Regions from separate parts of the Homo sapiens genome. Here region 1 is linked to region 2. The links come from fine-mapping of genetic effects on gene expression. A gene starts in region 2. The other region holds a variant in brackets. All regions are shown on one strand. Distances are from middle to middle. Region 1 has its middle 6.5 kb from the start of LINC00424. Region 2 holds the start of FGF9 (fibroblast growth factor 9).

Region 1 (3,018 bases), 210 kb before region 2:
GGCCATCATCCTCTCTCCCCAGACAATCATGGCAGCTTCCTTGCAGAGATCTCAGTTTTGCCTTCTTCAGACCCTCCGATGGCTTCCCCTCCCACCCAGAGAAATAAGCCAGGATGCTTACGGTGGTCTGCCCACCTCCTGCCGCCTCTGAACTCACTTCTCACCAGCTCTCCCTGCTTCCCAGGTATCACAGTCCTTGAAGCTTTTCAAAAGGACCAAGTCAGCTCCCACCTCGGGGTCCTCGGACTTGCTACATCCCTGCTTGGAATGTCCTCCTCAGAGCCCGGCCCAGCTTCCTGCCTCCGTGCCTAACCAGAAATGCCTGCCCCGACTACCCCATGGACAGAAGCACTGCACACCCCTTTTGCAATACTCCTTACCCTCTACCCTTCTTAATCTCTCCCTCCAGTGAGGACTGCCCTCTGCCATATTGCATATTTATCTGTTTGTTCTCTCTCTCCATGCTAGAAGGTAAATCCGCAACGGCAAGGACTTTGCTTGGCTCACAGAACAATGCCTGCCACCTGCCAGGTGCTCAGTCAGTATTTGTTGAGTGAACTCACTCATGAATGGTGCAGTCACAAGGAGCTGAGTTCCAGCAAAACTGTCCAAATAAAGCACTGGTGCTGACAAATCCACAATTTACTTCCATGCTGCTATCCTTCTTGCTGCCTGTCCACTCCATGGACTATCCAGCATGTGAACGAATAATGAGGATGGTAGCAGGTGCCGAAACTCCTCGCGTGCTATGGAGTCAAACCATCCAGCAATGAGCTCTTCTAGAAAGCCAGTTACCAGGCAAATTCAGAACAAAAGCTGGAAGGACTCTAAAGCTGCTGACTTCCTCTTGTAAGGGCCTTGCAGTGTCGCTACCACTCTGATTCCTGTTTTACAGATAAAGAAACCAAAGCTACTAAACATTAATCTCCTTGACCAAGGTCACAGAACTAGGATTCAAAGCCAGGGCTTACTCTGGTGTCCAAGCTCTGGCCCATGCCCCATCTTTCAGGTGAGGTGTACTGGCCGCCCAGGCTGTCAGCTCCCTGAAGCTTCCTTCCTTGTGTTCTCAACAGCTTCTGCTAACCCTGGTCGACGTCGGTCACCACACAGAGACTTAGGAGCAGCCACTGAGTGTGTAGACAGATTCAAGGCATCCTCCAGTGTAACTTGGGAGGAAGGAGTGCTCTCTTAAAGTGTCAACAGCTTGGAATTGTTGTAAAGGCCCTGCTTACTGAAACAGCCAATCATGTGTCAATATGTTTGCCCATGTGCATTTAATGCCTGTCGACTCCAGTTTGAGACCAAAGAGAGTTAAATAGTTTTCAATAGTGTCCTAAACCACCCCCCTCCTGTTTGTCCTGTAGAAATTCCATTGTGAATTAATGTGCAAGCTGGAGGTGACCCAGCCCATGAAGGGCCAAGAACATCCTCCTGAAGGGAAAATTAAAACAAGGAACGATGATTTAGAATTCCAAGTATGCAATCCACTCTCAGATCCTCTCCCCTGCCTGAGCTTACTTTCCAAGTCAGATCTGGATATAAACTGTATTCGGTGATTATAAACAATAATTAACATGGCCCGACGAAGAATGCATTTTGGGCTCCCCAGGAAGCTTCTTTCAGTAGCATCAATAAGGAACATGAACTCGGGCTGGGAGGGGGCAGGAGTGAAGGGCTGTGCCCAGGAGCAGCTTGTTTACCATAAAGGCCCAGTGCAAACACTACATCTGCTCCTCAGTCTCAGGTCCTCATATCTGATTTTACAGCTGCCCTGACTGAGAACCAAGGACTGAAACCAGTTTGTTT[A/G]ATGTCAGAGCTTCAGTGTTGTGCCCCTCTACAAGGCTCAAAACCCCTGGCACTAATCAGCAAATAAAAGAATGATTTAGAGTCCATCTGGATTCATCAAGTCCCACATAACTAGGTGAATTCACACATCATTTTCTTCTGTTCCTATCAAAAATGTACCATTTTTTCATTCGCTTTCTGGTCTCTCCAAAAGACTTCTAGAAATTCCATCTGCACAGACTGGGCTAGGTAAACCTTTCTGATTCCAAGCCACCAAAAGTAGCCCCTATGGATGAATTCTTCATCTTTTCTCAGTCCCAGAAAATGACAAATTGTCCTACAAATCTGTGCTGTTCTGATTCTGAGCCTAACAGAGCTAAATAAATAAGTCAACACACCACACACACACACACACACACACACACACAATGGCAGACACAGCATCAGAAACTGACTCTTCACTGAGGGATAAGAAAAGTGTAATCACAATCTCCAACAGGACTTTGAGTCAGGCTGGAGGAAATGGGTGATGGGGAGTCGCCCACAGAATATGATCAGTTTTCTTACCAAGCTGTAAATGGATTATCTCACTGGGATGTGTTGATTAGTTACATATGTCCTCTGTTTTCCATGAGGATAGAAGAGGCAGGTTTTATTTCTTAATAGTACAATACATAAGGCATTATAGCTCTATACAGGCTGTGAGCATTTAGCATATTTTACTTTACACAATAGCAATGATTATTTTTCTGAAATATTAAAATCTGAAAGTGGCTGCGATTGTACAGAATGTTTCAAGGATTTCATTGGCTCGACTGATCGTTTTCAGCTCACAAATCTCAACTGCACCTCTTCACTTTTTCCCTTGCCGAGAAACACGTCTGCTCTTTTTATTCCTGATTTACAAGGCAAATTTGGCATGCAGTTCTCTTATATATGCTGATCTAGGCTTATTGAAGGCAGGTGCGCTCTTTAATATATGTGGGCATAGGGACCCCCTTCCATCCCATAAAAGAATACTGGGCATGTTCTCAGGTGGAATATCTGCTCTCTTTTATTCATAAACCTGAAAATCTGAAGCATTTGTATTGCTTTTACATATTACTATGAACAAATTAGAATAGGAGAAATAATGTTCCAACCCTGCAATGGTACCATATTAAAAGTGTCTGAACCAAACTCTGTCCTCTATTCACTGACTGAAAGGGATCCCAGAACTGAGCCTACTTCCCG
Region 2 (2,500 bases):
AAATTAAAAGTAGGGGGCCTTTCAGTGTATACTTGCATCAGTGCCAGCAGCAGATCTGCAATTCCGGAGGCATTTTTTTTTCGGAGCTGGCAAGACAGAGAGAGAGAGAGACAGAGATACAGAGAAAGAGGGGAGGAGGGGAGAACCCTTCCCACGTCCCCCACCCGGCCACCACCTTCTTGGTAGTTATAATTTCAACATGTCATCTCATGGACACTAAAGGGTTAATGGTATACCTACCAAATCGGCTGTGGTCTTTCCTGGTTCCCTGGATAGTACCATTGGGGAAGATTTCTAAGTGAAATCCAGTCCTGCAGTATAGCTGCCTCCGCCTGAGAATCCCCTTTAAATGATCCAAGTCCGTGACTGCGGGTCCCCTGGGGAGCCCCCCTGCTTCGGACTGACCCAGGTGGTCACTTAACAAAACCGGGCTGTCCACCGGCAACACGGGCACATTCCCAAACGGTACCGCATCCTGCACACCGAAATAGTTCCCAACTTCACCTAAGGGAGCCATCAGAGGACTCGGCTTTTGGAGCACAAGAATAAACAATAATGATGGTGTCAACCCAGGAGATATTAGGCGAGGTATATCCAACTCCCCTCCCTTACTGCAGTTGCAGAGAGAGAGAGAAAAAAAAGGTTCTTTTCTTCAATCCATTAAATGCATAAATAAAAGTAATCTGCTGTTTCACTGGCACAGGTTCAAGGTCAAACCACTGATAGTCTAAGAAACCACCACTTTATACTCACACACTGACATATTGATAAACATATCTATGTATCTCTATAGATAGATCCCCAGCTCTTAGCAGGCAGGAAGGTCTTCATCCCATCCGACCGTAATAAGGAAAAAAAATCCGTAGTTTCTCCATTTGGTTTGAGATCAGAATGACCATAGCAACTTAAATGCCTAGGCGTTATTATAGGGATTTTTAAGATGCACGGGCTACGTCAGAATTTACGGATCCTGACTCCAGGAAGGCATGCGCTGTTTTTACTCTCTAACCGACTCTGCAGACATCAGCATGAATCCTTCAAGGGGAAAAAAAAATCTCACGTTGGTGGCGGCGACAAATCTCCCCTCCCGGTCCCCCCTCCAAAAAATGATAATAATAATAAAACAAAAAGAAGAAGAAACTTTAGGCGTCCAAAGCTAGTATCCAGGATTCTCCAGAGGCTCGGCAGATGTCCATTGGCTTAGAACGGGTGGCGAGCGGCGAGCGAGGAGAGCCGCGTCCGGGAGCTCGCGTGCCGCCCAGGCTGCCGCGAACAGGTGTTGCCGCGCCGGCTCGCGGAGCGTTGTAGCCGGGCGGAGCGCTCCTCCTGCGCAGCCCCCGCCGGCGCGCAGAGTGGCGCAGGCAGCGGCATTGGGCTGGGTTTAAGGTAGCGCCGCCGCAGCCCGGGCTCCCCGCGGTCCTAGCGCCCGGCTTACTGCCCGCGCCGCTCTGCGGCAGGCGAGGTGCGGCGCGCCAGAGCGCAGGACTTCCTGGGAGGCAGTCGAGGAGCCCTGGCTTTACAAAGAAAAGCAAATGAAAGATGCACTGCGAGAGGCGGGAGGAAGAAACCCTGAGTCTCCCGAGACTCAAAGTTCTCCTGCAGAATAGAAGCCGGTAACCTACAATCTAGCTGGCTGGCTACATTGATGGAGGGTCAGAGTGAAACTGGGAAACTAGTTTTCACTGGGGCTCTGTAACCTTGCGTTGTATTATAGAATATGACTGAGTTGAGAGAGTCGGAGGGAAGGGGAGTTGATTTAATGGACTCGGATGGCCATGGCAGTTTCTCTTCCATTCTTCGGCCACACACACAGAAGCGCAAACTATGTTTCAGGTAAGATCAACTCCTCTCCCCCGTCACACACACACACACACACACACACGCAGATGCGGCCACCGTTTCTGTTTTGTTTGGAGCGTTCTGCTGGGCATCTTTGGGTTGGGGCTATGTTTAGGTCCCGCCCCGCTGCTCGGGTCCCGGCGGCCGCAAAGCAGTCGGCAGGGGGGCGCCAGAGAACCTTCTCTGTCCCCGACTTCGACTCGGGCGCGCGTCTTCGGGAGTCTGGGTGGAGGGGAGCGCTCCAGTAGGCGTCTTCTCGCCCTCAAACCACGCTGCTTAGGACGAGCGGCGCCATCCCAAGCCGTGCATCGGCTCGGGGAAGCGAAAGGCGAGTTCTGGTGTCTCACTCCACCGTCCGAAGCCCGCCGCGGAGCTGGGAGGGCCGGGCACTGGATGCTTGCGGGGCGCCCCGGGGCTGCAGCCGCTCCTTCCTGCTCTGCCCTGCGGGGCCGCACGTGGAAGCCTGAGCTCCGTTGCGCGGGCTCGGGTTTCTGTTAGCCGCCGGCGGCCTTCGCGCCCAGCGGGAGTCAGGGACAAAGAAACCCGCCTCCGGGGGCCGCCAGGGGCCCTGCCGGGCCGGGCCCGCCAGAGAGACTGGAGGCGGCGCGCTCTGCGCCCGGGACAGCCTGCCTGCGCCCGGATCCCCAGTGGCGGCGGGCGC

The links. PIP is the estimated chance that this variant, and not a neighbour inherited with it, causes the effect.
Region 1: its variant is fine-mapped to the expression of FGF9 in gastroesophageal junction (GTEx, PIP 0.98).

What each region holds. Positions count from the first base shown.
Region 1 is chr13:21,883,185-21,886,202 of GRCh38, reverse strand. No RefSeq gene overlaps it. Among named protein-coding and RNA genes, the nearest start is that of LINC00424, 6.5 kb to the right of the region's middle. The variant A/G (reference allele first, on the strand shown) is at 1,807.
Region 2 is chr13:21,669,930-21,672,429 of GRCh38, reverse strand. It overlaps FGF9 (fibroblast growth factor 9), which reads right to left and starts at 1,357. Exons shown (of 3, transcript NM_002010.3): 1 at 241-1,357. The coding sequence starts at 517. RefSeq lists silencers at 1,370-1,429, 1,450-1,499, 2,280-2,500.